Linked DNA regions of Homo sapiens. The protein of the gene in region 3 purifies or fractionates together with the protein of the main gene of each other region. This does not show direct contact. Each region holds a gene or a part of one and is shown on either strand. Other genes may lie near its edges. The genes, in order: AKAP10, ACO1, BRSK1, NT5DC2, CPVL, NINL and HADHA.

Evidence for each region.
Region 1: the proteins of BRSK1 (region 3) and AKAP10 purify together in Homo sapiens (tandem affinity purification; one large-scale study listed by IntAct). This does not show direct contact.
Region 2: the proteins of BRSK1 (region 3) and ACO1 purify together in Homo sapiens (affinity purification with mass spectrometry; one large-scale study listed by BioGRID and IntAct). This does not show direct contact.
Region 4: the proteins of BRSK1 (region 3) and NT5DC2 purify together in Homo sapiens (affinity purification with mass spectrometry; one large-scale study listed by BioGRID and IntAct). This does not show direct contact.
Region 5: the proteins of BRSK1 (region 3) and CPVL purify together in Homo sapiens (affinity purification with mass spectrometry; one large-scale study listed by BioGRID and IntAct). This does not show direct contact.
Region 6: the proteins of BRSK1 (region 3) and NINL purify together in Homo sapiens (affinity purification with mass spectrometry; one large-scale study listed by BioGRID and IntAct). This does not show direct contact.
Region 7: the proteins of BRSK1 (region 3) and HADHA purify together in Homo sapiens (affinity purification with mass spectrometry; one large-scale study listed by BioGRID and IntAct). This does not show direct contact.

Annotation. Positions count from the first base shown.
Region 1 is NC_000017.11:19,967,829-19,971,328, forward strand, and holds part of AKAP10 (A-kinase anchor protein 10, mitochondrial isoform 1 precursor), read right to left. Parts: intron 634-3,500; coding exon 586-633; intron 1-585. UniProt on the Homo sapiens protein: Differentially targeted protein that binds to type I and II regulatory subunits of protein kinase A and anchors them to the mitochondria or the plasma membrane.
Region 2 is NC_000009.12:32,426,143-32,429,642, reverse strand, and holds part of ACO1 (cytoplasmic aconitate hydratase), read right to left. Parts: intron 2,343-3,500; coding exon 2,207-2,342; intron 225-2,206; coding exon 140-224; intron 1-139. UniProt on the Homo sapiens protein: Bifunctional iron sensor that switches between 2 activities depending on iron availability. Iron deprivation, promotes its mRNA binding activity through which it regulates the expression of genes involved in iron uptake, sequestration and utilization.
Region 3 is NC_000019.10:55,304,497-55,307,996, reverse strand, and holds part of BRSK1 (serine/threonine-protein kinase BRSK1), read right to left. Parts: intron 3,447-3,500; coding exon 3,077-3,446; intron 2,677-3,076; coding exon 2,628-2,676; intron 2,535-2,627; coding exon 2,411-2,534; intron 1,746-2,410; coding exon 1,547-1,745; intron 1-1,546. UniProt on the Homo sapiens protein: Serine/threonine-protein kinase that plays a key role in polarization of neurons and centrosome duplication. Phosphorylates CDC25B, CDC25C, MAPT/TAU, RIMS1, TUBG1, TUBG2 and WEE1.
Region 4 is NC_000003.12:52,531,058-52,535,228, forward strand, and holds the start of NT5DC2 (5'-nucleotidase domain-containing protein 2), read right to left. Parts: upstream 2,801-4,171; 5' UTR 2,681-2,800; coding exon 2,449-2,680; intron 1-2,448. UniProt on the Homo sapiens protein: Promotes dephosphorylation of tyrosine 3-monooxygenase TH which decreases TH catalytic activity and leads to reduced synthesis of catecholamines including dopamine, noradrenaline and adrenaline.
Region 5 is NC_000007.14:29,066,538-29,070,037, forward strand, and holds part of CPVL (probable serine carboxypeptidase CPVL isoform b precursor), read right to left. Parts: intron 1-3,500. UniProt on the Homo sapiens protein: May be involved in the digestion of phagocytosed particles in the lysosome, participation in an inflammatory protease cascade, and trimming of peptides for antigen presentation.
Region 6 is NC_000020.11:25,470,532-25,474,031, reverse strand, and holds part of NINL (ninein-like protein), read left to right. Parts: intron 1-3,500. UniProt on the Homo sapiens protein: Involved in the microtubule organization in interphase cells. Overexpression induces the fragmentation of the Golgi, and causes lysosomes to disperse toward the cell periphery; it also interferes with mitotic spindle assembly.
Region 7 is NC_000002.12:26,238,133-26,241,632, reverse strand, and holds part of HADHA (trifunctional enzyme subunit alpha, mitochondrial precursor), read left to right. Parts: intron 1-2,489; coding exon 2,490-2,531; intron 2,532-2,628; coding exon 2,629-2,699; intron 2,700-3,500. UniProt on the Homo sapiens protein: Mitochondrial trifunctional enzyme catalyzes the last three of the four reactions of the mitochondrial beta-oxidation pathway.

The DNA.
Region 1 (3,500 bases), on a different chromosome or scaffold from region 3:
GCCGAGATGGCACCACTGCACTCCAGCCTGGGGATAAGAGCAAGACTCCATCTCAAAAAAATAAAATTAAGGTAAAAAAAGCCTACTTACGGCCGGGTGCGGTGGCTCACGCTTGTAATCCCAGCACTTTGGGAGGCCGAGGCGGGCGGATCACAAGGTCAGGAGATCGAGACCATACTGGCTAACATGGTGAAACTCTGTCTCTACTAAAAAATACAAAAAATTAGCCAGGCGTGGCGCCGTGCACCTGTAGTCCCAGCTGCTGGGGAGGCTGAGGCAGGAGAATGGTGTGAACCCGGGAGACAGAGCTTGCAGTGAGCCAAGATCGCGCCACTGCACTCCAGCCTGGGTAACAGAGCAAGACTCCGTCTCCAAAAAAAAAAAAAAAAAAAAAGCCTACTTATTATATGCTAGATGTTAAAGCATTATACAGGTTAAAGAGGGAAATAAATCAAAATCATAAGTAATTATAAAATAAGGCAGAAATGATTAATGCCAAAAGAGAGAGTATAACAGGATTAAAGAACTCACAAATGCAAAGCACATCACTTTTTAATGCAGTGGACTGCCAAGGGCAGAACTTACCTTTAATGGACTTCACATCTGAGGTCTTCTCTTGTTCTTTGCCTTTCACTAGAACATAAAAAGATAATTATGACCAACTTTTGCAGTCAGAGATCCATTCTATAACACTGTAAAAATTAGACCAGCTTTATTCTAAGATGAGTATTCAAAGTTCTAGAACAATGGACAGCCTTGGAGGAGGGCACAGGAGGGTAGTTGTCAGCAAAGGCTTCTCTAAGGAAGTGACCTTGGAACAGCATCCAGTCAAAAGAGTTGAACCTGCTTATGGAGAGACAATGTAGTCACAACATCTGGGGTCAAATTCTGGCTCTACCACTTATAAGCCATGTGATCTTGGACAAGTTACTTACTTCTCTGGGTCTTAATTTTCTTGATTTATAAAATTAGGTCAATAATAAAAACTACCTTAGAGGATTATTGATGAAAAAAAATATATACCTGTAAGGGGCTTAGAAGAGTAACTAGCACAGTAAATTGAGGACAAATGCTAACCAATATTATTACCATGTGTCATCCATAGTACTAGCTACTAGAAGCATAGTGAAGAAAGGTCTTTGGTTGTGTATCATATCTTATTACTTATTCCTCCCATAGCATCAAGTGAAAACATCCTAAGCCTCTAACACTCAGAGTATAATAATTTGTCTGGGCCAGGCACGGTGGCTCACGCCTGTAATTCCAGCACTTTGGGATGCCAAGGCGGGTGGATCACCTGAGGTCAGTAGCTCAAGACCAGCCTGGCCAACATGGTGAAACCCCATCTCTACTAAAAATACAAAACAATGAGCTGGGTGTGGTGGCGGACACCTGTAAGCCCAGCTACTTGGGAGGCTGAGGCAGAGAATTGCTTGAACCCAGGAGGCGGAGGTTGCAGTGAGCCGAGATCGCGACACTGTACTCCAGCCTGGGAGACAAAGAGAGACTCCGTCTAAAAAAATAAAAGATAAAGAATAATTTGTCTGTAAAATAATCATATAATTGCTTCCTTACTACATAAAACAGTAAAAATTCTGCTGTAGATAAGCTAATATGACATCCAAGATAGGAAGGTGCCCAGCAGCTTAAGCCAAGTGTGAATTCTATCACAGGATCTGACATAAGACTATTTTTAACCCTCTTTTCTTGTTTTTTTTTTTCAACATTAAAAAATCTTACCAGGAAAAGGTTATCAAAATAAGAAATGCCAAAACGTGCCCATCTCTGTATTTGTGCTCTTAAACATTGAAAGGTGAAAGGCTAGTAGCAGGAAATAACTCGCCCTCAGAGTATCTGGATGAAGTCAATACATCAACTGTTGAGTGCTTGGTATGTGCCAGACATGCTCCCAGCTCAGAAAAGGCAATGATTTTGCCTTCAAAAAGTCTACATTCAAGTGTGTGGAGACTAACATGAAAAAAATAAATAAGATCGTTGCAGGTACTGATCACTGCTGTCAGGAAGACGACATTTAAAAATGTTGTAGGGTCACTGGTGTTTGCAGCCCTCTCAGCAGCATCTGCCCATGGACTACATCACTCACTTTAAACATTAACTTGTCTTGGCTTCCTTGACTCCTCTCTTCTGCATATACATCTGTATTTCCTGGCTGATCCTACCCATTCTTAAGGCTTACAATACCATAGATACGCTGTTACTCCTAAATTTATATCTCCATCCTAAATCTTTTATCTCAAATTCATATAGCTAACCACCTACCTGCCATCTTCCATAATTCCACTTGTCTAAAAGGGAACATGTCATCTTCTCCCAAACCTGTTCCTACCTCAGTCTTCATCTTCCCTCATGAATGACACTGTCATCCACCCACTACTCAGACCAAAATTCCGGAAGTCATCCTTAACATGGTCTGTTTATTACCTTCCACATACAAACTATGACCAACTGATTCTACTGCCAAAACAAACCACCACGGTTCCACTTTTACCACCTAAAAACATTCTCCTACTATCAATCAGATCTCCTATGTTATACTTCTAACATATACACAACTCAACAATCAAATATCAGCATTTTGCTTTATTTCCTTCTGTCCCCCTAAGTATTATACATAGACTTTAGAGTTCCTATGAATCACCACCTGACCCTTCCTTTCCCAGATATAAATACTTACTAAATTAGATATTTCCTGGCCAAGCGCAGTGGCTCACACCTGTAATCCCAGGACTTTGGGAGGCCAAGGCGGGTGGCTCACTTAAGGTCAGGAGTTCGAGACCAGCCTTGCCAACATGGTGAAACCCTGTCTCTACTGAAAACACAAGAATTAGCAGGGTGTGGTGGCGGGTACCTGTAGTCCCAGCTACTTAGAAGGCTGAGGCAGAAGAATCGCTTGAACCCGGGAGGCCGAGATTGCGGTGAGCTGAGATTACACCACTGTACCCCAGCCTGGGTGACAGAGCAAGACTCTGTCTTAAAAAAAAAAAAATAAATAAATAAATAAAGACATTTTCCTTCCATGTACGTTTTTTGACTATGACCACATACAAATACTTTTTATTTTTATTTTTTTGAGACACGGTCTTGCTTTGTTGTCCAGGCTAGAGTGCAGTGGCCTGATAACACTCGAACTCCTGGGCTCAAGTGATCCTCTCATGCCACCATACCTAATTATCCTTTCTGTTGTTGAGATGGGGTCTTGCTATCTCGCCCAGGCTAGTCTTGTACACCTGGGCTCAAGTGATCCTCCTGCCTCAGCCTCCCAAAGTGCTGGGATTACAGGTGTGAGCCACCACACCCAGCCAAACGTGTATATATATACATGTATGTGTATTTTTTTTAATGGCATTATTCTGCACATCTTTAAAAATCACGCAAATGGCTGAGCACGGTGGCTCACGCCTGTAATCCTAGCACTTTGGGAGGCCAAGTTGGGTGGAACACTTGAGGTCAGGAGTTCAAGACCAGCCTGGCCAACATGG
Region 2 (3,500 bases), on a different chromosome or scaffold from region 3:
ATTTTAACTAAACTCAAAAGATCATACTCTAAACCACATCCCCTGCTTCCATGGACCTTCTTGAAAATATCAGCATTTTTGTCACATTACATGAAAAGAAACAACTGCTCTGAAGACCTGCAGGGACCTCTGCAATTACCTGTGTGATGGCTTCTACCACAGGTTCAGGTAAAGGCCCACTGTTGCCAATGCAGGTCATGCAGCCATAGCCCACCACGTCAAACCTAGACACCAAGAGAGAAGCACACACACACAAAAAAAGAATAACTTTCAGTGAGCCCTTCTGCTGGCCACAGTTTCCAGAGACCACTGTTCAAAAAGGAATTGCAGTGCATGAACTAAGTTCAGTATAGTGCTATTTCTAAAAGTTTCATTCTTGAGAGCATTCTGATATATAACATAAGAATACTATTCATATTTTTAACTTATAAAAAGGAATCAAATTGAATGAGCAACAATTTAAAAAAGTTGAAATCATATATGCCATATCTTCATTAACTACTATTATTGTATAATCCTAAGGAGATTTGAATTTTATGAGGCACATGAATAAAATATATGTCATAAGTCAGGAATAATATGGAAATTGGAGAAAGCGTATTTGGCAACGAATACATTCATGCACTGCACAATGTTTCTGTTAGTGATAGACCACATATACCCAAATGTATATGTGGTATATAGCTGAAAAATTCCTATCACCTAGTGATGTTGTAGCCATCGTGATGTCACAGTGCAAGGCATTTCTTGTTTATGATGATGCTGGTATAAACAAACTCACGCTGACTTTTTTTTTTTTGAGACGGAGTCTCGCTCTGTTGCCCAGGCTGGAGTGCAGTGGCGCTATCTCTGCTCACTGCAAGCTCCACCTCCCAGGTTCATGCCATTCTCCTGCCTCAGCCCCCCAAGTAGCTGGGATTACAGGTGCCCGCCACCACGCCCGGCTAATTTTGTTTTTTTGTATTTTCAGTAGAGACGGGGTTTCACCGTGTTAGCCAGGATGGTCTCGATCTCATGATCTCGTGATCTGCCTGCCTCAGCCTCCCAAAGTGCTGGGATTACAGGCATGAGCCACCGCGCCCAGCCATGCTGACTTTTTATTGTTCTTTTAGAGTGTACTCTTTTTGTTTATTAAAAAAAAAAGCAAACCAGTTAAGTGTAGAACAGCCTCAGGAAGGTTCTTCAGGAAGTATTCCAGGAGGCATTATTATCACAGGAGATGACAGCTCCATGGATGTTATTGCCCCTGAAGACCTTCCAGTGGGACAGATGTGGAGGTAGAAGACAGTAATACTGACAATCCTGACCCGGTGTAGGCCTAAAGTGTGTGTTTATCTCTTAGGTTTTTTTTTTTTTTTTTTGAGACAGGGTCTTGCTGTCACCCAAACTGGAGTACAGTGGCGTGATCATAGCTCACTGCAACCTCAAACTCCTGGGCTCAAGCCATCCTGCAGCCTCAGCCTCCCGAGAAGCTGGGACTACAGGCATGCACCACCATGCCTGGCTAATTGTTTTACATTTTTTTTTTTTGTAGAAACAGGGGTCCCACTATGTTGCCCTGGCTAGTTTCAAACTCCTGGCTTGAAGCAATCCTCTTGCCCTGGCCTCCCAAAGCACTGATATTACAGGTGTGAGCTACTGGGTCCAGCCTGTCTTGGTTTTTAACAAAAAAGTTTAAAAAGTAAAAAAATAAAAACTTCAAAAATAGGAAAAAACTTATGAAATAAAGATATAAAGAAAATATTTTGGAACAGCTATACAATATGTTTGTTTTAAGCTAAGTGTTTTAAGAGTCAAGAGTTTCAATAAACTTAAAAGTTTGTAAAATAAAAGTAAGCTACGGTTTACATTATTGAAGAAAGAAACTTTTTTTTATTAAGTTAGTGTGGCCTAAGTGTCCAGTGTTTATAAAGTCAACAGTAGTGTGTGGTAATGTCCTAGGCCTTCACATTCACTCTCCACTCATTCACTGACTCAACCAAAGCAACTTCCAGTCCTGCAAACTCCATTCATGGTAGGTGCCCTAGAGGGCAAGAGGGCTCTCTTTAGATGGAATGTAAGGGTTTAAGTCTAACTACCAACTGATAAACGACTATGCAATTAGATATCATCAGATAATCTCACATCTGTTACAAGGTGACACAGCAAGATACATGAGGGATACAATTCAACAAAAGCAATGGTGCAAAAGAAAACTCTCCCTCACCCAAGCTGAGACAGATAAGGCATGACTCCGCTTTCTTGTAGGTAGTAGGTGACCACGCCACTCCCAGGAGACAGGCTAGTTTTGATGTAAGGCATCACGTTCAGGCCAGCATCCACAGCTTTCTTTGCTAACAATCCTGTGAAATGGTAAACACAGATGCAGTGTGGGAGGCTGCCTGCTCTAGGTGCCAGGCACACTTCAGAAAAGAGCCTGATTTTCTTCAGTCTGCATTTCCTGCCACCACCTGACCACGCTCCCTTCATGTTGGCGCTATCTGCTGTTTCTGCTGCCAAACAGAAATCTAAAGGCTCCCTGGCCAACGGTCATTTAGATATATGCAGTAAACTCAAAGCTAGGCAAGGAAATGAAGAAAGAGATTTGCTTACTTTTTTTTTAAAGAGATAAATGTAAAACCATTTAGGAATATATTACAAAATGAGTTTTTAATTTTTTTTTTAGAGGGAAAATCATCTTTCTAATTATGTTTTATTTGGATGAAAATCATCATTGAAGGAGCCCTTTCTGAAACTATATCAGCTGTGTGCTGGCTGGCAAGGAACGGTCAGCCAAGAAGTAAAAATCGAGTGTTCAGATATATCTTGAAGTGGAGGATCTGCTGGACTTTGGCAGATACAGAGACTGCTACTGGAACACTGGGTGCTCTGTCTTAGGAAGTATCACAGAAGTAGCAAAAACATGAGCAGTGGGGGTGGGGACATGAGGGGACAAAAAGCCACAGACAAGCTGGTAACTTGTCTACAGAAGACTGGTTTGCTCCAGACCAGACAAGGAAAGCTTAGGTGGCAATACACGGACTCAGGCAAAGAAGGCTTTCCTAATGCCCGTGTCTGCTTCATAGAAAGGAACTGCTGACACTGTCTGGTCTGTGGATGGATATAAGAGGAGCTTTGGGGATGACTAAAAACTTGGAAACTAAAGAGACCTTATAGTAGGGAAACCACATATGTAAATATTAACAACTCAACCAGAATTGCGAAACAGGCCAGTGGCCCCAGGTTTTATCAGCCAGTGCCCTGTGCCCTCACTGAGAAACACCTCCCAGCATTCACGTCAGAACTCAATCCTGCTGCTCAGGGGTTTCACGGAGAACAAAGTCTGTGGTAACACTTTATTTTTCTTCCAAAGTCTGACACAAGAATGTAGGCTTTCCCAGAAATCCAGCTTCCTTTGCTTTCCTCTACTTATTTTCTGTGTTAATTCTCAAGAGAGACTATTATGCAGTGTGCATTCGATTTTAAAAACTTTGCTTTGGATACTATTTATTGTGTAGATA
Region 3 (3,500 bases):
AAAAAGAAATCGGAGAAAGTCTTTTCTTTTTCTTTTTTCTTTTGAGACAAGGTCTCATTCTGTCACTCAGGCTGGAGTGCAGTGGCGCGATCACGGCTCACTGCAGCCTCAACCTCCTGGAATCAGGTGATCCTCCCACGTCAGACTCTGGAGTAGCTGGGACTACAGGTGCATGCCACCGTGCTGGGCTTTTTTTTTTTTTTTAAATTGTGTGTGTGTGTGTGTGTGTGTGTGTGTGTGTGTGTGTGTATAAATTTTTTTGTTTGTTTTGTAGAGATGAGGTCCATTATGTTGCTCAGGCTGGTCTCAAACTCCTGGGCTCAAGCAATCCTCCCACCTCGGCTTCCCAAAGTGCTGGGATTACAGGAGTCAGCCATCATGCCTGGCCTCAGAAAAAGTCTTAAAATTGAGAAAGGTCTGCATATTAGCCTTTTTTTTTTTTTTTTTTGAGACAGAGTCTCGCTCTGTCGCTCAGGCTGGAGTGCAGTGGCACAATCTTGGCTCACTGCAACCTCTGCCTCCTGAGTTCAAGCGATTCTCCTGCCTCAGCCTCCTGAGTAGCTGGGATTACAGGAGCCCACCACCACGCGAGGCTTATTTTGGTATTTTTAGTAGAGACAGGTTTCACCATGTTGGCCAGGCTGGTCTTGAACTTCTGACCTGCTCGTCTCAGCCTCCCAAAGTGCTGGGATTACAGGCGTGAGCCACCGCGCCCAGCCTGCATGTTAGTCTTTAAGGGGGACAGAAAAATAAAGAGTCATAATTGGTTTTGGTGACGGAACACCCACAGTTCCACAGCCGTTTGGTTTAGAAATCTTTGGGGCAAGCCCCTCTCCCACCTGTGACATATTAATATTGGTGACAAAGAGATCGGCGATATCCCTCCCTATCCAAATGCTCACTATCAGGATGGAGGGACCAAACAGAAAGCAGAACTGGAAGCAAGGTATTTTAGTGGTTTTCCTTTCTTGTGCCAAGCCTCGACTGGTCATGGCTGCCTGGAGTTCAAGTTCCTGAGGCTGCCACTGAGCTTAGCAGGAATAAGCACTGCCATCAATTGGTAATGTCTGCTCTGGGCAGACTGATATTAGACAGCAGTGTGCTGTGTCTTCACCCTTTGGCTCTACCATCTTAAAGTAATAGGAAGAGCTGGGCTCTCTCCTCTGAAGTTGGGAGGCCTGGGTTGGGCTGCAGCTCTGCGACAGTGTATTGTGTGACTCTGGCCAAGTCCATTGACCTCCCTATGACTCAGTTTTCTCCTCCGTAAAATGGGTGATTACTAACACCTCAGTAGGCTGCTTGGAAGCTTCAAGGAGATAATGCATTCATTATTTACACTGTAAATGCCAGGGAAATGCTGATGAGAGTGGGGAAATAGAGGATGGGCTTGTGGGGCGGTCTGTGTGGGCAGGAGGAGCACAGAGAGTCGGCACCAGCTGAACACCATTTCCTCCTCCTGCTGCTGCACTCCTGGGCCCCTACACTGTCTCAGCTGTCGTGAACAGTCCCAGCACTGGGCTGCAGGCAGCCTAGCCAAGAGACTCACCCGAGATGAGAGTGAAGGTGACGGAGTAGATGCCACCACCTCCGCTGCCGTCCCGTCGCGGGGAGGGCTCTGGACCCTCAGAGGAGCTGATGTCCACCTGGAAGCGGACGGGCTTTTGGAAGACGGAGGGGCCGCCACTGGCCTTGTACTCGGCCCTGAAGCTGGTCTGTGACAGCACACTGTGACTCAGGCTGGGGATCTGAGCGAGGTAGGAACACAGGAAGGGGTGAGCCCAGGAAATGGATACCCAGCCCCACGACCAGCTCTGGCCAAGGAACTACGAGTCCCATGAGCCACTGGAGGGAAAGAAGGACAGGAAATGCATTGGGAGGCCCCACTGCCTGCAAGGACTTGTAGCTTTCTCTATCCTATCAGCGAGTAAGGGAGGAATGGTTGGACATCCCCCTAACATCATGAGGACTCTGATAGCTAGGTGACAGCCTCAGACTCCAAGACCACATGAAACACTGCTTGCTCCCTTTACAAATGCTTCCCATAGCCATATCTGTCACAGAAACTCTAAGTCCCATCCACCCGTAGGCATAAAACCACAGACCAGCAATGGGGCAGCCTTAACATTGCCTGGGAAGTTTCTTCGGCTAGTTTCAAACCTCGCAGTAGGGGAATGGGAACTCACCAATCCTTGAGGACATTGCAATTCAGGATCCTATTTCCCCAATTCCAGGCCTCTGGCCACGATAAATCTTTCCTGCCTACCGACTTCTAACCAACTCTGGCCATAAAACTACAAATCCCATGAGCCCCAGGAGGAAGCCAGGCCTATGCTAAGGTGGTTAGCCCCAGGGGCTGCTGGGACTTGTAGTTCTGCGGGGGCCAGGCTCGATGGGGACCCAGGCCCCTCACCGACAGAAAGGCATGGACGATGTCTGCTTTGATGCTGCTGAGAGGTTTGTCCTTTAGCACGAGGAATATTTGTTCTTCTTTGTCCAAGGAGATGAAGTTCCCGAACCAGGAGCGTTTTGCCAGCCTGAGTGGGAGGGGGTGGTTGGAGGAGGGTTAGGAAGGCGCCGAGGGCATGAATCCCCTGCATCCCCACTCTTTCCTTCCCTGTGAGACTCACTCCGGGGAGGACTCTGGCGTCAAGCTGGACATCTCCTCAGCGGTAGGGACTGGTAGGGGGAAGGCAGAGAACGTGGTCAACACCTGTGCATCATCCCAGTTGCCAGCACACAGGCCTGCACTCGCCCCCTCCCAGGGTTCCAGAGCCTTGGGTTGCAGCCTCGGCCAAGCCATCCCTCCTGGGCGGGGCTCACAAACCACGGGCCAATGGGAGGTAATCCAGAGCCCCAAAGGCGCGTGCCCTTCAATCGGGGTCCTCCTCCAGAGCTAGAGGCCCCACCTCTCTCCCCAACAGGTGCACCTCTGCTTCAAACCCCCTCTTCTCTAGAACGTGGGAATCCAGGCCCCCAGTCCCTTCCTCTCTAGACACGCCAGACGGACATCCCTGGAACCAGATTTTTAGCCCCAACCTCTCCCCACATTAGGACTCGGCAGTTCATGCCCCCATACCCTGCATCTTGCGCCGGTGAAAGCGAGGGGAGCCCAGGAAGCTGTTGCGGATGGAGTTGAGACGACTCCTCCAGGCGGCTCCCCCGACGCCACCGCCGGGGCTGGGGGGTGGTGTTGTCCCCGGGGTCCCGGTGGGACTGGCCCGGGGCGTGTGCAGAGGCGAGTGCAAGGGGGTCCCGCCAGAGGAGCGCGGGGAGCCTGGGGGGCCGGGCAGGGGTGTGGAGCGGGCACTGGGGGGCGGGGGCTGCTCCCCGGCGCCCCCACCCCTGGGGCCCCGAGAAGGCAGCGTCTGCGTTTTGGAAGTCGGGGAGCCCCCGCCTCGAGCCTCATCTCCAGCCCCCGGCTCCGGTGAAAAGGAAAAGACCGGACTCTGCAGAGGACAGGAGACTGAGATAAGCGAGTGGACTACAACTCCCAGGAGGCT
Region 4 (4,171 bases), on a different chromosome or scaffold from region 3:
CAGCTGCTGCACTCAAGAGGCAGACATCTCGCTGATGTGCTCCGTGCCCAGAGCACTTGCCTCAGAGGCACTCTGGGGACACAGGGCTCCATTCCCACCCCTTTCCTTTGGAGCCAAGTTCAGGGTGTGGGTGGGGGATCAGGTGTGGCTGGTTCCCCAGGCCAGCACAGAGCGGCTGCTCCGAAGATCTGTGGGTGTAGACAGGAGTCTTCACTTGGATGCAAGTGAGACAGTTGACTGCAACGCTCTAGGGAGCTGCTTCTGAGCCACCCCTCAAGGCCCAGGGTTCTGGTGTGTCACTAGGACCCTGGGCCTTGCCCTTCCCATGGCCCTGAGTTCCCGGATACCAACTGTGACTGTGACTCTTGGTGCAGAAGACCTGGGAGGGTCTGCTCGGCAGTGCAGCCCCTTGCTGGCACAGAGTCCTGGTTAGGTCCAGGCCTTCACCTCTGCCCCTAAGGATGTTCCCAGGGGCCCAGGGGCAGACAGTCCTCCCAGGAACAAAGCAGGATGTGGAAACAGCCACAGGGCCTGGTGGCCTGGCCTGATTTCTAGACTAGAAGAACCTTGGCTCTGGGGCGACAGAAGCCTGTTCCCTTCCATAGGTGGTGTGGGTGGGGGGTGGGGGTGGGGCAGCTGAGGGTGTGTCCCACTCAGCATGTCCAGCAATTGCCCTCCTTTCTCCTCAGCCCTAGCTCCCACACCTGCCCATGGTGCCAGGTCCCAGGGCCAACTGCTCCCTAGCAGCCGTGACACTTGTGGATGCCTTAGAGGCTTGTCTTGTTCAATCCTCACTCCCATCCTGTGAGGCAGTCCCACTTATTCCCCCATCGTCCGGAGGAAGAAACTGGGGCTCAGGGAGGTGAAGTCACTTGCTCCAAACCACCCAGTAACAGGCACCGGGGTTGAGATCACCATTCAAGTCACCCCACCTGCATTAATCACTCTGCCTCTCAGCCTAGCCTCCCAATGTCACCACACTGAGGCCAGGTGGGTGGGGGCTGGGGGACTGAGGGACCTGTTGCACTGCTCTCAGCCCGTGGGCATTAGCCCAAAGCGGACCTCGGCGCCCAGAGGTGTGAAGCTGGCTCCTGCTGGTGCTCACCATGGGATCTTGGTGGGAATGACTTTGCTCCTTGTATGACAAGAGGAGCTTAGAGGGCTGTGAGGCTCCAAAGATGCAGGCAGGCCCAGGAGGACAATGTCCAGTAGATCCCCGTAGTCCTCCCTGAAACCTCCAAGGCAGGCTTCTCAGGATACTCTGAGGGTCTTCTCCGGGCCCAGAGCAAAGACTTCTTAAATAACGCTGGGCCGCCCCTCCACAGACACAAACTCAACCTGGGACCTCGAGGGTGGACAGATGCCCAAGGCTTCAAAATGACCATTCCTCAGGGGCCTTTACCATCCTGCCTTTACTGGTCAAGAAGTGATTCTCCGCCACCCCACAAAGCCGGAGTGAAAACCCCTGTCTAGCCAGTTAGAATCTTCCAGACAGGGCTACTTTGTTTTATCAGACAACAAAAGCCACGTCACCCCTGGGGGTTCCTCCGGAAGCTCTCCTGCCCTGCTTGGCCTGGTTCCAGTCATCACCCAACCCTGGGACAGAGAGGCCCCAGGACTGCGTTTCATGCTTGAGAGAGGGTGAGACTTGCTGGGGGACCACCCAACTGGTCAGTGATAGGGTCACGACCCAAACCATATCTGTCTGCTGCAGAAGCAGGGCCCCACTAGACCCACGGAGACAAGCAGGCAGATGTCCAGCACTCTCAGCTCTGGGGCCTCACTAGTGCGCCCCAGCCGGCCCCCTCCAAGAAGGGGCCTCAGCCTCCTCACGCCATTTCTCAGAGGGAGAGAGCAGGGACAGGGAGGTTAAGTGCCCTTTGCAGCCCTAGTCTGGGCTCCAGGGGGCGGGGGTGACTTGGCTTCTCCCAGCCTTCGCTGCCCGGGCTGAGAGGGGGCCGGACCTCCAGGGCGACATCGAGGTGTGTCTGGGAAGTCCAACCGGTGTCCCCTTTGGTCCGGCCGTCCCTAGGAGCCCGTTCCGCCCGGCGCCGCTCGCTGGCTTTGTCCACAGCACTCTCCCGCCCCAACTAAGGGTTGGCCGAGAACAAGGGGTTGGGGGCGTTTCCACCGCGGCTTCACGGCAGGCGGGACCCCGAAGGAAGTCGGCGGGGGCCCAGCACTCCGGCAGCCGCTCGAGGAGCCCCGAGCTCCTGCAGACCGAGCCGGGGAACAAACCTCCCGCCCGCCCCCGGGCGTCGGGGCGCCCCAGAGGCCCCCGGGATGAACGGCCGGAGCTTCTCGCGAAAAGCCGCCCGGCCCTTGCGCTCCGGGGCCCTGGCGAGCCCCACTGGGTGTTTCCCCGGAGGAGCGGCACCCTGGGGCTCGGTCCGTCCATCAGTCCACGCGGAAGACACCCCGGCGCACGTCCCGCCCCGGCTCACCCACCGTGCACCAGTCTCCGCATGTCCTGGTAGCGAGCCCATAGGTGCGCGCTGAGGTCGGCGCCGCTGGTGGGTGCCTGGGCGGGCGCGGAGCGCGGGACGCCGGGGCAGTGGGCGCCGGGACCCGGGGGGCCGCACCCAGGGCAGGAGGGCGAGGACGAGGCGGCTCGCGGCCCGCCGTGGCCTCCGCACAGCAGCCAGCGCCGAGCGGCCGCCCGCAGCCCCGCACCCGCCATGCCCACCGCGCGCCGCCCGCCGCCCGCGCTGCCCTCGGCCAGCCCGCCGCCCGCCGCCCGCCGCCCTCCGACTGCGCGCCCGCCACGGTGGCCTCGTGCTCCTCACGGCGGCCGGCCAATGGGTGCGGCGCGCGGAGCCCGGCCTGCCAATGGGCGCGCCCCTCGGCCCGGGGGGCGGGAGGCCCCGGACCCGGCGGGGCGGGGCGGGGCGGGGAGGGCTCCCCAGCCCCCTCCCCCAGCCAGTCTCCGGCGCGGTCCGGGAGGACTCTGCGCCCCCCTTCGGCCGTCACGCCGGCGATGGCGGCGCCTTTCCCTGGCCCCAGCCCTGGAAGTCAGCGGGCCTAAGAGCGGCCGTCCCTGAGAGGCTCCGGACGGCCGAGGCGCCGAGAGGAGACAGCCGGAGCGCGACGGGTACCCCCCGGGCCCCCGGGTCCTCTGCCGCCCTCTCCGCTCCCGGGTCCGCCCGCCCTACCCTGCGCCTCTGGATGCTTCTGACCCCAGATCCTCCGCTCCTCCCCCTAGTCCTGGTGCTCTCCTTTCCCGGGGTCCTGGTCCCCGGTCTCTGGGCTCGGACTGACTGCCCACTGACCAGAGCCCGGGCCAGTCCACTCACTGGTCTAACAAATAAAGAGCCCTTCCCGCGCTTCCCGGTGCCAGGCCCACGCTGGGGGAGGCCGAGGGGCCTGCAGGGCAGCCGACGTCCGCTAACCAGGTGACTGGGCCGTGCGCTGCAGGGTTGTGGGCCACGGTCACTGCGCCCGCTTGGTTCGGACCTCGGCAACTGGCCGCACTGACCCGTCAACTCCCGGTTTCCCGGCGCACGCCCCTCGTGAGATGCTGTGGTCTTTTCTAGCAACGTCGACAGGCTTTCCAACAAAATTCCTCTTTCCTGCGCAGAACCGCTCTCCACTCGCATTTCTTCTGCTCAGATCCGTATTCCGAGCCCGCACGCATACCAGGCTGTGCTCAGGGTCCGGAGGAGGCCGACCCAGTAGCCGTGGGCCCTGTCGGAGGGGAGCCAGCTGGGCGCGCGTTGTTTTCTGAGGTGGCCGCGCTGTCTTTCAGGGTGTGTGTACATTCGAAACTCCACTGAACCTTGATTGAAGACCTACAGTGTGGCAGTCCATGGCCTGGGGACTGGTAAGGATTGAGGCCGTAGGATGGGCTCGAGTGTGGCGGTGTCCCCAGGGCCCCAGTGAGCAAGTGGGTGTGCTGGGAACCTGGCCACAAGTGAACCTCCTCCAGGCGAGGGGATGCCCTGCAGCATCCAGCCGTCAAAACCTCCTGTAGAAACGGGAGCGAGCATCAAGCCTGTGTGTGTGCATGCTTGGGCGGAGTCTACCCGGAGGAGAAAGAGGCTTCCGGGCTGGCCCTCCAAAGCCGGTTGTACAGGCGGCAGCTCAGGCTGCTCACTGCGGGCCCTATGACCCTTTCTGGGGCCCTGCTTGCTCTCTCCAGTCTGCTTTTGTATATTTTGTGTCCATATCACCA
Region 5 (3,500 bases), on a different chromosome or scaffold from region 3:
AAAGACATATTGGATGAGAGGAATAGAGCCATGCAGACATCTAGGGGAAGGAAGGTTCCAGGCAGAGGACACAGTAAGCTCAAAGGCCTTGCCTATGGGAGTAAGCCTTGTGGGAAGGGTGCCTTAACATGGATCATGAACTGCTCACCAGATGACATGGAGAGAAGACGCAGGATATGGTGCAGATGCAGGTTCCTGGAGCTGGTGGAAGTTATCTTTGGGCTGACATTAAAAAACCCAGTCACCAGCTGAGCGGGAGAGCAGTCAGCATGGTTGCATGCTTTCCTCCAGCCATTGTCAGCTGTGTGGAGACAAGCACAGCCTGACAGAGAGGCAGATTGAGCCAGGGCTGTGGTTCAGCCAAAGGAGTTGGAAGAAATGCAAAAGAGCTTTGGGCTTGGAAATGTATGGAATGACTGACCCTGGGTTGAAGACAGGTAATTAGAGAAATGGAGACTTGAGGGGGTTAGAGATAGTGGAGAGGCAGGAGGATCAATGGATTGAAAGGTAGTGAGGTTGCAGGGCTGTAAGATCAGTACATTAGCAGAAGAGATTCGGACAGGAGGTGGTAGTTGGAGAAAGATGTTTGAATGTGTGATTGTGGATCAGCTGCCAGCATTTTAGGGTATGAGAATCAGCAGCTAAGATGAGGAGGAGAACAAGATCATTGAAAAAGAGGAGGCTGAGGCACCAAGGACCAGGTCCCAAAAGGATCGTCAATGTGGATCCTGCAGTTACCAGGAATTATGACAAGAATAATGCTGCAGAGAGTGACAGGGAGGAAGGAGCTCAGCTATTCAAATGAGAGGGAGTAACCAGGGGTTGGTAGGCAGACACAGTTGGAAGTGGTCAGAGGCCCTGTCTGAGGACAGGAGAGTCAAAGCTCAATGCTTTAGGAGGAGGCAGGGAACATGATCTGAAAGTCACATGATGAGCAAGGAAGACACCTACTCCACCTATGAACCAAGTGATACAGACAAGCTAAGAGAGAGAACAGCCCCCACTCAAGAGGACCACAGGGACTGCAGCATCAGGGGAGAGCCAGGTTTCTGGCAAAGCAAGAAGATGAAGAGAAGAAAATAGTCACAGAAGAGGTTGAAGACATGGAGGGGGGTTGTTGATGATGATATTAAGTTGTAAGGAGTTCTTACAAAAGAATTCAAAGAAATGAAGTCAGCACATGTTAAAAACAATCTATCAAGTACAAATTTAGGTCTCTTATCAGATAAGGTATTATTATTCTAATTTTATGGGTGAGAAAACTGAGACACATGAGTTTAAGCAACTTGCCGAGGACACCTCACTAATAATGTCAGAGATGAGATGATTAGGCCACGACTCCTGAGCCTGCACACTCAACCACGCACACACTGGCTCCCAGCAGTCAGCCTGCAATGCTTCCTACTTGCCAATTCCTTCTGGCCATGCTTCAATGCTTGAGAAAATAGACTAATTATTATATTCATATTCTTTTTTTTTTTTTTTGAGATGGAGTCTCGCACTGTCACTCAGGCTGGAGTGCAGTGGTGAGATCTCAGCTCACTGCAACTTCTGCCTCCCGGATTCAAGCAATTCTCCTGCCTCAGCCTCCCGAGTACCTGAGATTAAAGGCGCCTGCCACCACGCCCAGCTAATTTTTTTTTGTGTGTGTGTATTTTTAATAGAGACGGGGTTTCACCATGTTGATCAGGCTGGTCTCGAACTCCTGACCTTGTGATCTGCCCACCTCGGCCTCCTAAAGTGCTGGGATTACAGGTGTAAGCCACCGCCCCCGGCCTGTATTCATATTCTTTTTCAAACATGAAAGAACTTATTCAAGTTCCTATTGCCATGGGGCTAGAGGCCAAGAATGAAAAGGGTTATCACCATAGAAGGCGGTGTGGGTGGAGGTGGTAGTAAGTATTCTCTACCAATGCTACCATTGCTCAGGGCCCCACATCTGGTTGTGCAGCTCCATGCGATGCCTGTGGCTAAGGGGTGCAAAGGGACAGGGAACCAGCCAAAGTTCTGCTCGCTGAGCTGGAGAGCCTGGCTCAGGGCTGCATCTGGAGAAGTGGCCACCTCTTATCCTCACACAATGGAGGCATCTGCCTGCCCCGTCCTGAACCCACAGGACTGCATCACCACAGAGGAGGTGTCTTTTTCTTTTTTTTTTTCTTTGTTTTTTTTTTTTTTGAGATGGAGTCTCGCTCTGTCACCCAGGCTGGAGTGCAGTGGCGCGATCTTGGCTCACTGCAAGCTCCGCCTCCTGGGTTCACGCCATTCTCCTGCCTCAGCCTCCCGAGTAGCTGGGACTACAGGCGCCCGCCACTACGCCCGGCTAACTTTTTTGTATTTTTAGTAGAGACGGGGTTTCACCGTGGTCTCGATCTCCTGACCTCGTGATCCGCCCGCCTCGGCCTCCCAAAGTGCTGGGATTACAGGCGTGAGCCACTGCGCCCGGCCGAGGTGTCTTTTTCTAATTTGTTCACCCAGATGGGGCACCATAGGCCAGGGTCATTCTGAATGCACACATCATTTTTGGAACTCATTGTTAGAAATTATCTTCAACACCAGTGGGAATATAAAGTCAACCTTGAAGAATAACTTTGCTTTTAGAAAGAGTTAAAAGTCATTTGTTGGCCAGGCATGGTGGCTCACAGCTGTAATCCCAGCACTTTGGAAGGCCGAGGCGGGCGGATCACTTGAGGTCCGGAGTTTGAGACCAGCCCAGCCAACACGGTGAAAACCCGTCTCTACTAAAAATAAGAAAAATTAGCCATTCGTGGTGGCGAGTGCCTGTAATCCCAGCTACTCGGGAGGCTGAGGCAGGAGAATGGCTTGAACCTGGGAGGTGGAGGTTGCAGTGAGCTGAGATCTTGCCACTGCACTCCAGCCTGGGCAAGAGAGCGAGACTCCGTCTCAAAAAAAAAAAAAAAAAAAAGAAAAAGTCAGTTGTTGTCAAAAAATAACATGGGTGGTCAAGACCTGTGAAACTAAGAACTTTGTGATTCAGAAAATCATCATGGAAAGGGAGGTAATACTGGACAGAGGATCAGTCATTTCACATCTTGCAGAATATCTAAGACGATCCAGGATTTTTACAGAATGCCTGAAAATTACCATAGGATAAATACTGTGGTGGAAATGGGGGAAGCAATTCCAGTCCTCAGCCTGCCACAATCTATTTGTGTATCCTTCGGCAATTCATTGCTATCCCCTGGGGCTCGGCATCCTCTCCACTCACCAGTAAATGTGTGTGTGTGTGTGTGTGTGTGTGTGTGTGTGTGTGTGTGTGTGTGTGTGTGTGTGCATGTAAATGCATAGGGACAGTAGATGACCTATCTCCAGAGTACTCTCCAGCTCTGAGTTACTACTCTTTGATTAATTAAATCATTTTAAAGGATCAGAGCGTCAAACAGGCTTTATCATTTTAGGCTTGAGATTCTGACATTTATATTCCCCTGGGTTTCAGGATTTGTTGGAGTCTTCCTTTGCAGTCACTGAAACACATTTCAACC
Region 6 (3,500 bases), on a different chromosome or scaffold from region 3:
TAATGTCACATAGTCTCTGTTAGAGGCCAGTATTGTGCCATCCACAGTAGGTATCTGACTTTTGTGCTCTGGTTACTTCTGAGACCTGTATCTTTAGTGGTTTTTATTTGCTGTGTGCATTTCTTTCTTTTTAACTTTTTATTTATTTATTTATTTATTTTTTTGAGACGGAGTCTCACTCTGTTGCCCAGACTGGAGTGCAGTGGTACAACCTCAGCTCACTGCAACCTTTGCCTCCCAAGTTCAAGCAATTGTCCTGCATCAGCCTCCCAAGTAGCTGGGATTACATGTGCCCACCACCATGCCCAGCTGATGTGTGTGTGTGTGTGTGTGTGTGTGTGTGTGTGTGTGTGTGTATGTGTGTATTTTTACTACAGACGGGGTTTCACCATGTTGGCCAGGCTGGTCTTGAACTCCTGGCCTCAAGTGATTTGCCTGCCTCATCCTCACAAAGTGCTGGGATTACATAAGGCCTGAGCCACCAGGCCTGGCCACTTTGTTTTATTTTATTTTATTTTATTTTATTTTATTTTATTTATTTTATTATTTTATTTTATATTTTATTTTATTTTATTCATTGTAGAGATAGTCTCTCACTATTTTGCCCAGGCTGGTCTCAAACTCCTGGCCTCAAGCGATCCTTCTGCCTCAGCCTCCCAAAGTGGATCCTCCTTGAAATTACAGGTGTGAGCCACCATGCCCAGCCTCTTTTTAACTTTTTATTAAAGTGTGATACACATAAGAAAATGTATATATTTGTACAATTAGGAGAATTGTCAACAAATTGAACACGTCTGTGTTACCAGCGCCCAGAACAAGAGATGGAATTCACCAGAGTCCCCGGGGTAACCACTTCTTACAGCATAGATTCAGTTTGCTTGTTTTTGTACTTTATGGAGAGGAATCATGCAGTGTGTACTCTTCTGTGTCTGACTTTCTTGGCTCAACCTGGTTGTGCGATTGATCTGTGTTGTTGCTGTAGTTCATACATTTGCATTGCTGTGTGGTATTCTGTTGTGTGAACATACCACAGTTTATTCTTTTCTCCTGTTGATGGGCATTTGGGTAGTTCCTAGTTTTTGGCTCTCACAAATGGAACTGCACTGAACGTTCTTGCATTTGTCTTTTGGAGCATTATGTTGGGCTGTACCTAGAAATGGGATTGTTATGTTGTGGGTATAGGCATAGTTTTCTTTTTGTTCATCCTACTTAGAAAACATTGTCCCAGCCAGGCACAGTGGCTCACACCTATAATCCCAGGACTCTGGGAGCCCAGGAGTTCAAGATCAGTCTGGGCAACATAAGGAGACTGTTTTCTACAAAAACTTAAGAAAAATTAGTCACACATGGTGGCACGCACCTTTGGTCCCAGCTATTTGGGAGGCTAGATGGGAGGATCACTTGAGCCTGGGAGGTTGAGGCTGCAGTGAGCTGAGATTGCACCACTGCACTCCAGCCTGGGCGGCAGAGCAAAAGGGAAAAAAAAAAAAAAAAGAAATATTTTCCCTGTTGAATGTATGGATTGCATTGGTGTCTCATGAAAATCTCTCAGCCATTACTATTAAAATATTGCCTCTCCGGAGGTTGCAGTGAGCCAAGATCGCGCCATTGCACTCCAGCCAGGGCAACAAGAGCAAAACTCCGTCTCAAAAACAAAAAAAAAGTATATATATATATATATATATATATATATATATATATATATATCCTCTCCTCCCACTATTTTCTTCAATTAGATATGTGACTGTTAGAGCATTTCACTTTATGTCTCAACCTCTCTTTTATATTTTCCATCTTCTGTCTGTATCACATTTGGGGTATTTTTTACATACCTATGTGTTCCAGGTCAGTATCTCTTTCTTTCAGCTCTGTGTAATCTGCTATTTAAACCATCCCATGAGTTTTTATTTTGACATTGACTTTTTGTTCATTTCTAAAAATTCTGTTTGGTCCTGTCTGATCATTGTCAATAGTTTCTTGTTGCTTGTTCATTGTTTGTTGCTGTCTTTTATTTATGTAAACATTTCATAACACTTATTTTTAGTTTGTGTCTAATAAGTCCAATACCTGCAGTTTCTAGAGGATTGAATTCTGGCTTCTGGCTTCTGCTGTCATTTATGGGTGGCTTTGCTCCATGTATGTTATGGTGATCTTTGATTGTGAGCTCATATTTGCTTGATGTTAATCTCTGGGAATATAAAGAGCCTTATATGGGATGCTATTGCTTTTGCAGAGAAGTGAGAAGGTGCTAATCTGGGACTGTCTGAACCTCCTTCCAGGGCCCTGTCTGGTGCAGGTGTCCACAGTGCAGCTTCTCCATTCTGCTAATAGCAGTGCTGACACATAGGCATTGGTTGCAAGGTCCCCCCAGCTTTGTGTTGCATAGTGCTCACGCGTTGGTTTCAGCTTCCAGGATTTTGTTTTGTTTGGAGATTCTTGCAGGTTTTCTTTTCTTTCCATGAGGACAGTCACAGAGGTTGCGATCAGCTTTGCGCAGGATCTAGTTGTTTGGTGGTCATGTGGGGGATGGGGTAGGGCACCCCTCAGCTTTCGGCCTTGCATCAACTTGTTCTCCATTCTAGAGCCAGAGTGATAGTTTAAAAACACAGAACTCTCCTGCTTGAAACCCTTTGCTGCCTTTAATTCCAGTGACTATTTATTTTTGTCTTTAGTTCCTCATGAGATAAAATGAAGGCATATGAAGAAGATACTTATGTTTACTATTATAAGTATAATACATAAAGCGGGCTGGGCGTGGTGGCTCACATCTGTGATCCCAGCACTTTGGGAGGCCTAGGTGAGAGGATCACCAGGAATTCGAGACCAGCCTGGGCAACCTATCGAGACCCCATCTCCACCACAACAAAAATTATCCAGGCGTGGTGGCGCATGCCTACTGTAGTCCCAGCTCCTGGGCCTGGGAGTTCAAGGCTGCAGTGAGCCATGATCGTGCCACAGTACTCCAGCCTGGGTGACAGAATGAGACCCCATCTCAAAGAAAAAACAAAAAAATACATGAAGTGAACATGGTGAGATCATGTGGCTTTCAGTATTTTCAGACTGAAAAAATAAGAAGCTAGTACCATATGGAGACCTATTTGGGGAATACACGTTAGCCTTACCAGTCAGTATTAAGAATGCATTCTCTGGGTAGCAAGTATGGGTCTTAAGCTACTTCACTGGTGATCTTTTTTGTTTTTTCACAGACAAGGTCTCACTATGTTGCCCAGGAGGGTCTCAAACTCCTGGGCTCAAGCAGTCTTCCTGCCTCAGCCTCCCCAGTAGCTGGGATTACAGATGCATGCCGCCACTCCTGGCTCCCATTAGTGATCTTCATTGGTAAATTGCCATCTTCATCTATCAAATCAATGGCATTACCCAAGCAGGGACTCCCTGAGTTGTCAGAGAACAAAGACGGCCCAGGCAGACTTGGTTCACATAGTGGCTGTCTATCCCTGCCTTTTCCCACTTTGAGATTCACCTAGCAGAGGTTTCCCATA
Region 7 (3,500 bases), on a different chromosome or scaffold from region 3:
GTCACCCAGCCTGGAGTGCAATGGTGCGCTCTTGGCTCACTGCAACCTCCGCCTCCCGGGTTCAAGTGATTCTCCTGTCTCAGCCTCCAGAGTAGCTGGGATTACAGGCTCCTGCCACCACGCCCAGCTAACTTTTTTTTTGTTTTTTTTTTTTTGTTGTTGTTGTTGTATTTTTAGTAGAGACGGGGTTTCGCCATGTCAGCCAGGCTGGTCTCTAACTCCCGACCTCAGGTGATCCAGCCACCTCAGCCTCCCAAAGTGCTGGGATTACAGGCGTGAGCCACCGCGCCCGGCCATAGATTGTGTATTTTTAAATTTGATTCTCACTTCCTTAATCTCGTCGCTTCTCCCAGTGTTGAATCTTGAGAAAAGCTGTTGATTATTACAACCAAAGTAATGTTTTCAAATTTGAAATTTATGTTAGCATAATCCAGCTCTCTTCGCTGACTGTAGTCTTATGAGGTTTTGTAGTTATTCTTGGGTTACATTACAAAGATGATTAAAAAGTGGGGCAAAGGTTTCTCTCTACTTTGCTGGCACAGTAGATGTAGGCTAAAGTTCACTCAGCTGCCATAGGGTAAGCTCTGCAGTTAGGTAGTGAGTAAGGCTAGACTCCAAAAGCAAAGCTACCTTGCAGTGTGACTTGATTTGGTTGACTCTGGTTTGGAATTATTTTCGAAGTATGTTCATGTATATACTGGTTTTCTATTTGTTTCTATTTGTCTTGATCTTGGAGAGGTTTTGTGTATGAGTGTGTGGGCAGCATAGGTAGGTTAGTGGACAGGAGTTAAAATGGTTTAAACTGTTGGCTAATGACCACTAACCTGTTATCTCAAATATTTGATCTTTAAAACTGCAACCCAGTGGGGCATAGTGGCACATGCCTGTAATCCTAGCTACTCCGGAAGATTACTTGAGCCCAGGAGTTCAAGACCAGCCTGGGCAACATAGGGAGACCTCGTCTCAAAGAAAAAAAATGTTTTTGAAATATTGCAACCCATGCTCACTCTATTTCCTTTTTTTGCTTAGGTGCTTATTTTCTAACATATTTGTGTTTCTTGGTTTTTCCCTCTCAACCTGCATTCCCAATCAGTTCATTCCCACTCTAATCCACTTTACCCTGTTTTGCTAGAATTACCTATCCCCTTCTTCCCTTCCCACTGGAATTTCTACTTTGCAGGAAAACTTTTTCTATGCCAGGCCTATTTTCACTTTTCATTTATCTTCACTGAGTAGGAACTGATTCTTCCCAGATATCATATCCCCTGCTGACCTGGAATGTAAGCTCCACCAAGACAGGGATTTTTGTCTTTTTTGTTCACCCTGAATGTCCTGCTGTACTCCAAGTGCCTAGAACAGTGAATGGCACATGGAGGTCACAATATATGTTTTTGTTGAATGAATAACAGATTATGTTGGAAAAGATTACAATGTGGTTGGTGAAACACCTGCTACAGATGCAGCAGTTAGAGGACAGAACATTAAATAATAAAATAAAAATGCAGGCAAGGAAAGGAAGGATCACTGTAGACAGAATCCGAAGATGAGGTTTTGTGGAAAAGAGTGGAGTCATGATGCAAATATAAAGAAGGAAGAGTGGTAAATACAGATGACACAGATTTCAAATGATGGAAAAGCAAAGCAGGAAACATACTATTAGTCAAGTAGAGGCACTGGGGATTGAGGAGATGGCTGGCTTCTCCCATCTTAAAACACTGAAGTTCACTTGTAAGAGACTTGTTCACAGTCACACAGCTAGTAAATAAACCTGATGGTTGAACACAAGTCCTTTGCCTTTGCACTAAGTCGGCTGGCTTGGATTGCTTAAAGAAGAAATGCAGGCAGAACCTGAAATCACCCCATTCTGCTTCTGGTGCTAACCACAGTTTTCTTTCTTTTTTTTTTTTTAATGTGTCACCTTGCCTTTCCAACCAGTATAAAGCTGCTATTTTTTGTGCCTTCTCTTCCCTTTCCATAAGGAACTGGGGGATAAAGAGAAAATACGGAGGCAGCAAGAGCCTTGGCAACCTACTGATGATCCTCCCCTATTCCACTCCACCTTCACTGGGTTCTCCAGTCAGTAGTTCCCATGTGCCTCTTACATTGCTATCTCTTTGGTTCTCTTTGCTTCCCTCTTCCCTTTTGTGATTACACTGGGCCCACCTGGATAATCCATGATAAACTTTCTTTATTAAGGCCAACTGATTAGCAACTTTAATCCCCCCTTTGCCGTGTAACCTAACATATTCACAGGTTCTGGGGATGTATATCCCTTTGTGGGGGCCAGTCTTCCTCTTTTAGTATCCAAATAATCATCTGACCTAACAACTGAAATGGAAAAAATATGGCAGTAGTCATATGGCCTAGAATACATTGTACAGATTTGGGGTTTTTGTTGTTGTTATTATTGTAAATTACAGCTTTGTTATATATAAAAGGTACTACAGAAATTGTTTCGCAAATTAATTTTGAAATGTCTTTTCTTACAGGTTATATATGCCGCAATTTTACAGGGTCTTCTGCTTTGCTGAGTAAGTTTAATTTCTTTTTAATGTGTATGCTTACATTGCTTTTTGGATTTATGTTGCAATAAATATGTTTACAAATAAATCTTTCTTTTCTTTTTAGCCAGAACCCATATTAACTATGGAGTCAAAGGGGATGTGGCAGTTGTTCGAATTAACTCTCCCAATTCAAAGGTATCTCATTTAATTTGCAGTTTTTTTCTGCTAACCGCATTATGAATCTAGTCCTGAATGGGAAAGATGTATCCCATATTTCCCCAAATCTACCAATCTGGCAGTAATCTTACATGAATTTACAGTTTTGACAGTTATGTTAAACTTTGACAGATTGCCAAGGGAGCCAGTTTTCTAAAGCAGAGGTTCTTGCGTAAGAATTCCTCTTGTTGACCTTAGGTGCCACCAGCCTCCTGGTTATAGTGTAGAATGAGGAGGTGACTTATTAGAGAAGAACCAGAGTACAAGCTTTGTTTATAAGACTCAAAATTTGCCTACCCATCTTAAATATGAGGTTGTTAATCCATTTTCTTCATTACTTGCCTGACATAAGTCACTATTCATAGTAAGTTGGCTGAGTGAAATGTGGATACTTGGCTCTTAAGCTTCCTGAGGGATCTGAATGACTCAATGCAATTCACATATTGGAAATCAAGTTCTGTTCGAATTGAAACTTCTTTTGTTTTTGGCAGCTTCAATAAAGTGTGTAACAGTAATCCATTCTTTTGCCAAGAAGAGCTTTATTGTGAGAGTCCATGCTTTTCCCCCATCTAAATTTGGTGTATTCTTACTTTAAAAATCTTGTAGCCAGGCTGGGCACTGTGGCTCACACCTATAATCCCAACACTGGATGGCCGAGGCAGGAGGATCACTTCAGCCCAGGAGTTTGAGACCACCCTGGGCAACATAGCAAGACCTTGTCTCTATAAAAAATAAAAAATAGTTGGGTATGGTGATGTTCACCTGTAGTGCTAGCTACTC